Linked DNA regions of Homo sapiens: region 1 is linked to region 2. The links come from fine-mapping of genetic effects on plasma protein levels. Region 2 holds a variant in brackets. A gene starts in the other region. All regions are shown on their reverse strands. Region 1 holds the start of CRISP2 (cysteine rich secretory protein 2). Region 2 overlaps ZNF722 (zinc finger protein 722).

The links. PIP is the chance, under the fine-mapping model, that this variant and not a neighbour inherited with it causes the effect. The UK Biobank Pharma Proteomics Project read protein levels with antibody pairs (Olink). The fine-mapping took linkage between variants from a reference panel, not from the people measured, so its PIPs are less certain.
Region 1: CRISP2 starts here. The variant in region 2 is fine-mapped to the plasma level of the CRISP2 protein (UK Biobank, PIP above 0.99).

Annotation. Positions count from the first base shown.
Region 1 is chr6:49,711,068-49,716,460 of GRCh38, reverse strand. CRISP2 (cysteine rich secretory protein 2) reads left to right here and starts at 2,918. Exons shown (of 10, transcript NM_003296.4): 1 at 2,918-2,986; 2 at 3,857-3,960; 3 at 5,140-5,176.
Region 2 is chr7:64,011,429-64,016,821 of GRCh38, reverse strand. ZNF722 (zinc finger protein 722) reads right to left here. Exons shown (of 4, transcript NM_001396012.1): 4 at 1-1,794. The coding sequence ends at 902. Among named protein-coding and RNA genes, the nearest start is that of ZNF722, 15 kb to the right of the region's middle. The variant G/T (reference allele first, on the strand shown) is at 3,030.

The DNA.
Region 1 (5,393 bases), not on the chromosome of region 2:
CTCCTATGCTTTTGCTTAAAAAGAAAATTCCCCCCTTTTTGATAAGGTTCTCACTTAGGTGAGAGTGTGACCAAAACTTAGGGCCTTAGCACCACTCTCAGTTACCATTATTTCGGGTTTCTGGTCTCACCACATCATTCATAGGTTATGGTGTCCTCATGGTCACACATTTCTTTCAGCTCTTGTCATTCTAATTGAAGAGAGACCATTTGACATTCTAGCAATGGCTGCGTGGAAGCACTTAAAACCTTTGAGAGAATACAGTGTACCAGGGAAACTATTATTATGACTATCGGGAGGATAATACCAAGAGTTTGGAGTATGCTCTTTACCCAGGTTACCCATAAACCAAACCACCTAAAATTAAATAGATCAAAAAATGAGCTAAAGAGTCTACTTACTTAACTAAGCAATCTCTTCATTTATCCTCTACAGCTAAATCTCTATAGTCTTCATCTGATGTATTTCTCCATAGGCCACAAGTGCCAGCAGCTGCACAGATACTTCTCTATTCAGCCAATTCTATCATAATTTTCACAAGAGAATTTAAAGTCTGGTATTTAACTATATCCTATACAGTAGAATCTGCTATAGAGCCTACTATGAGGAATGCATTTCTAATCATTGCTTCTTTTACTCCAAACCATAGAAAAAGGAACTAACAAATGATGCCCTTCTAGAAAAGCAAAGGACTCCTGGCAATGTTCTTAGAAGTACCTGTACTATTCCTCTCAGTAATGGAGATCTACTTTCCATGTGCTCTCCAACACATTCAGGCACCAAACTTACAAGTCTTCTATTCTGGATTTGCCCTTCATACAAAATCTATCAACACTTTTTAAAAATCTCTTCATATTCCACCCTTTTGTCCTATTTCTACTACTACAAAATTAATCTGGGGAATTGTTACCACACTTATTTTTGCTGCCATCAATTTCTCAGCTCTGTAAATCACCCCATGCAGTGAGATCAGGTGGCTTTTATGAAACATTCTTTTGATCAAAGAATTTCCCAACCCTCCAAAATGTCAATGAAATTACTTTCCCATGTTATACAGAGAAGCAAATCTCCTTAGACTTCTATACAAAGTTTCCCCAACCTTTTCAACAGTCTTTCTGTCTTGAATATGCCTTGTGATATAATGATTTATCTGCTTTTGTTCTTCAACTCTTTCTCCCTTCAAATCAAGCCATACGCATTATTCAATAACAGTTCAAATGTCAAAACTTTCCTAGGTTTTACCCAGATCATATCAACTCACAGAACTCTCAATTACTGTATATATTTTTGGTCGCCCTACTTAGCATTAAACTACACTACCTAATAGTATTCTTTACTTATTCATATACATACTCCTTTCTCTCATAGTACTATGAGTCTTAGAAGAAAGAGATTTTATGTCCTTTTTTCTGTATTTTCTAAGAATCTATGTCGGGTCAATATTTACTCACTTAACAAATATTTACAAACTACCACCTATATTTGGTATTGTGTTAGTTTTGGAGATACAGCAATAATCAAGACAGACATAGCCAATTTCTGAAATTCAGGTTCACCAACAATATCTGGCACCACAGCGCTCAAGTTGCTCTCATTCTGATATCATCAATGTGAATATGGGAACAAGTAATAATTACAGGAATGACTCTTCTCCAAAAATGAAAAATAAGATATTCACAGTAAATGATAGACTATTATAGTGCTGAGAATGAATTGTTCGGCACTAGAAAGAAAGAACAAATAGGTAGGCAGAGATTTTGTGCATATAGGTATTTGAAATGTCCAATTAATAACTTAAGCAAGATATGGTGAAAACATGAATATAGAAGTGAGGGACAGATTGAGGACTAGATTTCATAAATATTTAGAAAGGCAAACTGTCAGTAATGAATTTTGATATTGGATGTAGATATAAGCGTTAAGCAGTCTAAATTCCAAAATTTTTAGTCAGTGCTGCATGAACTGAAATAAGCAGCAAAAGAAAACTAAAACAATGTCTGTGTGCTGATCCCTTGAAATTACCTTGTAACACTGCCAAAGGAAAATGGCACTGAGCACCAAGTTTGTTATAGTTTCAGTTGTGCCCAAGTGAGTCTCCAGAGTTGGTGAAATCTCAAGCCTCTTATTGCATGGCTTACAGAGAACCAAGGTATGACGGATATTAATCCTTGGCTTGACATCTTTTGACCCATCTCTCTTCCTCTAGGTCATAAGCGAATTCACTCCTTTTCGCTTTGAAAACAACTGTGAATAGAAGAAAATGCACCTATTACTCATCCGCCTTCTGAGAGAGAAAACATGTCTTTAACCCATGCTTGATACGTATGCTAAACTTGCAGCCAGTAGCCTTGGGTCAGGAGTTCTGCGTATTTTCATAAGAGTTGTTCCTGTTACTCTTCGTGAATTTTCTCACCATAAAACTGTTGCCAACGGGGAAGAGGGACAAGAACATGAAGTGTTTATGAGGGAGCCTGAAACTGACAACCTGTGTAACTGGAGTGCGTCGTTGGCATGACACTGGCAGCGCACTGCAAACTTAAGCACCTGTGGACTCCTAATTAGCTCTTTAAATTGAACTACATTAATTCAGGCATTCTTGTTTGAATGCGAACGCCTCCTTTTTCAAGCCACCCCCTGGGCAACCCGAATCCTTATATGACCTCCCTCCTCCTCCTAGTACGGCGCAGGTATGCGAACAGACATTTTCTTTCCTCATCAACTGGTGGTAATGAGAAAAAGAGAACTCTGCTTTTCACAAGGGAAAACGTGCAAGATTTTCTCCGTAGTAGGGGAGGCGGGGGCGATGGGAGGAGAGCAGCTCACGTAGGCAGATAGCGGCGATGAAAGCATAAAGCCCAGTGACGTCGCCCACACGTGGCGCCTGGCAAGTGAACAATCGCGGTGAGAGGGGCGCGCCGCAGCTCCTCAACGCCGCAACGCGCCGGCCCAACTGCAGGAAGGTCTGTGCTCTGGAGCCAGGGTAAATGTAAGACCCGGATTGGAGACTAGAAATGGCTAGGGACGGGGAGGTGGGGTGAAGCACAGGGGAGAGAACCATCGTTGAGGTGAGGGGGTTTCTGATCCTCCTTCGCTCCTCTTCCGGCATCTGGAGGGCACATAGCTAATGCCGGGCAGACTGAGAGTTCAATTTTGTTGCTTAGCGCCGACCTACCATAACTTTCAACATGCTTCTCTATGTTTAGTCTATTGAAACTCTTTACCTACCTTAAAAGAGAAATCATTCTAAGTACATAAGACCCATTGAATCATAGTAGAAGCCTGAAGTCATTTCTCAATCTGCTTTTTACGAAGTCAAATTAAGACTCTTAGTTTCTAATTGATGTTTTGAATGTACAGTTATTAGAAACTGTAATAACAATTAGAGTTGGGGTCATTGACTCTGCTGGACTTTATATCATCTATTGGCTTCCAGAATTTAAAAAAAAAATGAAGAGACAAAGCTGTTACCCCCAAATCCACGTAGTTAATACTTACCATGTGGGACACTGCTTATGGAAATGATCTTTTAAAGAATGGGTTGAAGTCCTAGATAAGGGGTTGGGAGTCTTGAAAAAAGGTTGCAATTTTCCAAGCAAGTTAGCCAACTAGTAGTTACTGAACTTCAAGAAGTCCACTTTTTTGTTAGTGTTTGAAGGAAATATCAGGGCGTTGAAATACAATCTGACCTCAGAAGGACAATATGGTCTTAACGCTGAAATCAAATAAATACAGTAAATTATTAGAAACAATACTAAACAATTGAGTCAAAATTTAAGTTTGTGACAAAGATTATAGATACCATCTATAAGGGTATTCTTCACATCTTTATTTTAAATATTTTGTTTCCTTGTTCTAGGGTTATAAAATTATACACCATGGCCCTCCTAAAGACACTCTAGGAAAACCATGTCATCCTGATCTTAAAACACCTGCAAGAAAGAGCACAGTACTTCACCATTAGTAAGTAGCAAAGAAAAAAAATGGTAGCCAACTTTTCAACTATATATCAATATGGGTTTAAAGGAATAAAATGTAATTATATGGAATAGAAAAAAATATTTTTCCTTGAATATACTCTCACCAACAGTGACATTGCTTTCATTGACTCAATGAAGATGAGTATAGGTTAGATGGTTGAGGTTATGAGAGAGAAGAGCAGCAAAGAGGAGAGTATGGCATCATGGCCTATTATAGAATTCTGGCTCATCAGATGCATACACTGGGTGATTGAGCTATACAAAACTCTTCAGGCTCCTGTGTATGGCTTTCAATGAGCTGATGAGGATACAACAGCCCAGATGTTAGAGCATTTTCCTAAAGTCAGCCAGAAGGTGTCTAATAGAACCAGGCCTTGAACATGTGAATCTCGAATTAGATTATACTGATTGTATTTTCCTATAACACCTGGAAGGAAACACATGTCTCTTAAACACTTAGTAATTAGCAATTCAATCAAACAGCATATGTTTATAGAAAGCTCTTATGAGCTCAACAAACTAGCAGACATTGCAAAAGATAATAAAAACATGAATAATTTCCGTTTATTTGTATTATGTGCATAATGTGTTTATTGTATTAGAGGTGTTACATACATTGTCCCTTCCAGTCTTCAAAGCAAAAACCTGTGATATAAAAATCTACATTTTACATAAGAAAAACACTGAAGCTTGGCATAGATTTCCCAGACCTGATGGTTTCCAAAGAATGCACCCGTAACCAATAAGCTACAGGTAGTTGATAATTAGAAAGTAAAAATCATAGACAGCTGAACTATGAGAGTTCAGCTATAAGGCAGAATCCTGGTAACCTTCACAGTAGTTAACCTGTCTTGGGTTGTCAATATAGAAATACTAGTCCAAAAAGGCCACATGCAGATTATCGTGTGCCTAAGGAGAAGGGAGAACTGATTAGAAAGGGAGGGCATGATTTACTTACTCATGTTAAAAACTATGTGGGAAGCAAATAATGTCAAAAGCATTATCAGACAACTGACAATGAAGTTTAAGGTTACTGGTATGAAAAATACTACTTCAGAACTTTGTTGACTTAGATTTATTTAACAAAACCAGAGTTTGACAAAACAGGAATATGTGTAATATATATGCTGCTCTAAACCTTCCACCTTCTTTCTTTCTAAAGATAAAGTAGATATTTCATCCTGCTCAGAAAACCAACAGTAAGTGTTAAATCATTGATTTTAATGTGAATATTTTATCATGCCAATCATTTTTATGTTGTCAAGGGTAAAATGATTAATGAGTTTGCCCATGATTTTATTTTTTTGTTTTTTGTTTGTCTGTTTGTTTGTTTGTTTTAGAGACAGGGTCTCTTTCTGTCACCCAGGCTGGAATGCAGTGCTGTGATCATAGTTCACTGCTGCCTCAAACTCCTAG
Region 2 (5,393 bases):
TTTTAGAAAAGTTTGAGGTATGGTTAAATGCTCTGTCACATTTTTATGCTGTAGAGTTTCTCTCCAGTATAAAATTTTTTTAATTAATAAGGATGGAAACCAGTTAAAGGCTTTGCCACATTTTTTTCTACAGTTTCAGGGGTTCTCTCCAATATCAATTATCTTACATTTATTCAGGTTTGAGGACTTTTTAAAGACATTGCCATATTCCTTATTGTAGGGTTTCTCTTAAGTATTACATCTCTTATGTATAATAAGGGTTCAAGACTAGTTAAAAGCGTTACCACATTCTTTGCTTTTGTAGGATTTCTCTCTAGAATGAATTAACAGATATTGTGTAAGGCCTGAGATGTGCTTAAAGGTTTTTTCACTTTTTTTTTTTAACCTTTCTAGGGTATCTCTAATATAAATTCTCTTAGGTTTTGGGAGGCTGAGGCAGGTGGATCACCTGAGGTTAGGAGTTCGAGACCAGCCTAGCCAACATGGTGAAACTCCATCTCTACTAAAAATGCAAAAATCAGCCAGTGTGGTGGCACATGCCTATAGTCCCAGCTACTCAGGAGGCTGAGGGAGGAGAATCACTTGAACCTGGAAGGCAGAGGTTACAGTGAGCTGAGTTTGTGCCACTGCACTGCAGCCTGGGTGACAAAGGGAGATACCATCTCAAAAAAATATTTTTTTTAAATAAATTCTCTTGGGTTCATTAAGGTTTGAGGGTTGGTCAAAGGCTTTGTTACATTTTTTTACATTTATAAAATTTTTGTCCAATATGGATTCTCTTATTTTCTATTAAGGTTTGGAACTTGTTAAAGGTTTGTCCATATTCTCTACACTTGTAGTGTTTTTTTCCAGCATAAATTATTGTATGTATTATAAGGCCTGAGGGCTAGAATTTGCCACATTATTTACTTTTGTAGGGTTTCTCTCCAGTATGAATTATCTTATGTTTAGCAAGACTTGAATGCCTCTTAAAAGCTTTGTCACATTCTTCACATTTGTAGGGTTTCTCTCCAGTATGAATTCTCTTATGTGTCTTAAGGGTTGAGGAGCAGTTAAAGGCTCTGCCACATTCTTCACATGTGTAGGGTTTCTCTCCAGTATGAATTCTCTTGTGGTCATTGAGGGTTGAGGATACGCTAAAGGCTTTGCCACATTCTTCACATTTGTAGGGTCTCTCTCCAGTATGAATTCTCTTGTGGTTAGTAAGTGTTGAGGAGCGCCTAAAAGCTTGGCCACATTCTTCACATGTGTAGGGTTTCTCTCCAGTATGAATTCTCTTATGTCTAGTAAGGTTTGAGGGCCACCTAAAGGCTTTGCCACATTCCTCACATCTGTAGGGTTTCTCTCCAGTATGAATTCTTTTATGTGTAGTACAGTTTGAGGAGCGTTTAAAGGATTTGCCGCATTCTTCACATTTGTAGGACTTCTCCTTAGTATGAATTATCTGATGTTGATTTAGGTGTGAAGGCATGCAAAACGATTTGCCATATTTTTTACATTTGAAATGTTTCTTTCCAGTATATCTTGTTTCATGTCTATTGCAATTTGAAAATTTACCAAAGACTATGACACACTTATGAGTCTGAAATATTTTGTTTTGGGTATTTGACAAACATTGCTTAACTTCATTATAACCTCCTTTGTGCACCTCACACTCACCCACACTTTTACAGCATTTTTTAAATTGTAAATTCTCATGTCCACATTTTCCATATGTTCTTGGTATTACTTTTTGGAGTGAATGTTTTATGCCCTGCTCTGGATGAAGGTCTTGGGTGAAATGAGAACACGTAACTGAAAGACATAAAAATCACAAGTTACTCCACTTACTAGACTCAGATGAATATACTTTACAAATCGAATATATAAAATTATACAAGGCACACTAGCAAAATGGCATATCAAATTACCACAGGCCATAATTCCTTCATAGATGTATAAACCTAACAAAATCATAGTGATCAAAATACCTTTGTTGGAAATTTATAGAATAAGTGTGTGCCCCATGTGAGCACAATGTCAAAAGCCATATAGAAAGAAAAGAAAAGTCTGCTACATTTGCCCAACACAGCCCTTCCTCATCCCCAGTAGAAGAACATGGTGTCTTTAATGACAGCTTTAAGTCTTCTGTGATCAAAAGTGAATGTTACAACAGCAGAAAGACTGAAGTACCATGGACAGAAAATAGGTGTAGAAAGTAGTTATTGACCAGTAATAAGAAATATGAAGAAGTCTTTTAACTGAAAAATAAATACAAAATTGCAGACAAGACACATCCTGAGAACATGTTTGCAAGACTCCCAGAATCTCTACCCAATACAATTGGTTTCAGGCTATGCCAGAAAAGAGCTGCATTATAAAGATTGTGAAAGGTAGTTTTATGTTAATGTCTAAATCTCAACCAAAGATTATAATGTATACAAAATATTTGGGCAACAAGGTCCAATCAAAAAAATCAAAATTTTCAAAAAGCAACTATAAAAATAAAGATGTATATATTAATTTTTAAAATTTAAGATAATCCGTATTTTGCTCAATGAGAAAAATGGAAAACCAGATATCAGATAAATGAGAATGTCAACAAAAGGCTTGGAATAATAAAAATAAACAATTGTGGAAGTAAAAAAGAATAAGTGAAATAATTTTAAAGTATGAAAAAAGTAATGTAAAAAATGAAGAAGCTAAACAAACAAACTAGGATATACACAAAAAGATCCATAACACATATTTAAGCAAAGTTTCAAAAGTCACAAACCAGAAGATAATCTTGGGAGCTGCAAGATAAAAGTGAGGTATTATTTATAAGCCTAGTCCTCCGAGACAACCAGTGAATTTGTCAACAGAAACCTTGCAGGTCAGAAAAGAACTGTGTTAAATGGTCAAAGGCTGAAAAAGAATCTTCATTGTGAGAATAATGTAATCAGCAAAAATGTACTACAAAATAAAGAAAAAAATAAAGATCTTCCAGAATAAACAAATGCTGAAAAAGCATATAAGCACTGCATGTACCCTAAATAAAATGCTGAAAA[G/T]AGGTCTTTCCACTTAAAATAATATGACGAAGAATATATAATCATATGAAAATACATAACTTTCTGAAAAACATGCATATATAAAAAAATAAAATTCCGTGGCATTATTGTGATGGTGCCGAAAACATTTTTAGTTATTCTTTAAAATTTGAAAGATATAAGCATAAAAATAATCATAAAACATAAAAATATACAATTAGCAATATCAATAAGAAGTATAGGGTAGATATAATGCGGACAAATTTTTCTATGCAACTGAAGTCATTTTTTTTTTACCAGTTTAAAATGTACTGTTGTAACTTTAACAGGTTTTATAAAATCTCTAATGTAGCATAAAGAAAAAAATCTTTATAGACACACAAAAGAAAATGAGTCAATTACTAGCATGAGACAAAGATTGATATTATATAATGGTAAAATGAGTCCATTTACTAGGAATCTATAACTATTATGTCTATCTATATGTATAGGCATATATAACATCACGGCTTCAAAATATATAAAGCAAATATTGACAAAAATGAAGCAAGAAATAAAATAGCAACATAAAATTATAAACATTAAGACCTCACTTTCAATAATGAATAAAAAATTTAAATAAAATATCAATTAAAAAACAGAAAGCCTGAATAACATTATACTGTGTATGAATTCATTTTGCAATGCTACAGAAAATAACCTGAGACTGGGTAATTTATAAAGAAAAAGATTTCTTTGGTTCACAGTTCAGTAGACTGTAAAAGAAGTATATGCCAGCATCTGCTTCTGGTGAGGATATGAGGAAGCTTACAATTACAGTGGAAGTCAAAAAAGAACCAAACATGTCACATGGTGAAAGATGATGCGAGTGTGAGGTGGAGGAACCAAGTTCCTTTAAGCAAGCAGCTCTCATGTGAATTAAGAGAGTGAGAACTCTATGATTACCAAGGGGATTGTGCCAAGTCATCCATAAGGGATTTGTCTCCACGATGCAAACAGCTCTCATTAGGCCCCACATCCAACACTGGAGATTACATTTCAATATGGGATTTGGAGGGCATCTACACCATATCACAAACCAAATAGGCTAAACAGACATGTACAGAACTCTCCAGTCAAAAGCAAGTGGATACACAATATTCTTATTTGCACCTGGCACATTCTGTTAGAACACATAAGTCTTAGTAAATTTCAAAAGATCAGCCAGGTGCAGTGGCTCACAGGTGTAATCTCAGCACTTTGCGAGGCCAAGGTGGAAGGATCACTTGTCCTGCAGCTGAGGGACTTGACTGTTGGAAGGAAAACTAACAAACAGAAAGGAATAGCATCCACATCAACAAAAAGGACAACCACACCAAAACCCCATCTGTAGGTCACCATCATCAAACACCAAAGGTAGATAAAACCACAAAGATGGGGAGGAACCAAAGCAGAAAAGCTGAAAATTTTAAAAATCAGAGTGCCTCTTCTCCTCCAAAGGATCACAGCCTCTTGCCAGCAACAGAACAAAGCTGGATGGAGAATGACTTTGACGAGTTGACAGAAGTAGGCTTCAGAAGATCAGTAATAACAAACTTCTCCGAGCTAAAGGAGGATGTTCGAACCCATTGCAAGGAAGCTAAAAACCTTGAAAAAAGATTAGATGAATGGCTAACTAGAATAAACAGTGTAGAGAAGACCTTAAATAACCGGATGGAGCTGAAAACCATGGCACTAGAACTATGTGACGCATGCACAAGCTTCAGTAGCCGATTCAATCAAGTGAAAGAAAGGGTATCAGTGATTGAAGATCAAATTAATGAAATGAAGTGAGAAGAGAAGTGAAATGAAGTGAGAAGAGAAGTTTAGAGAAAAAAGAGTAAAAAGAAATGAACAAAGCCTCCAAGAAATATGGGACTATGTGAAAAGACCAAATCTATGTTTGATTGGTGTACCTGAAAGTGACAGGGAGAATGGAAGCAAGCTGGAAAATACTCTGTAGGATATTATCCAGGAGAACTTCCCCAACCTAGCAAGGCAGGCCAACATTCAAATTCAGGAAATACAGAGAACATCACAAAGATACTCCTCGAGAAGAGCAACACCAAGACACATAATTGTCAGATTCACCAAAGTTGAAATGAAGGAAAAAATGTTAAGGGCAGCCAGAGAGAAAGGCCGGGTTACCCACAAAGGGAAACCCATCAGACTAACAGCAGATCTCTCAGCAGAAACTCTATGAGCCAGAAGAGAGTGGGGGCCACTATTCAACATTCTTAAAGAAAAGAATTTTCAACCCAGAATCTCATATCCAGCCAAACTAAGCTTCATAAATGAAGGAGAAATAAAATACTTTACAGACAAGCAAATGCTGAGAGATTTTGTCACCACCAGGCCTGCCTTACA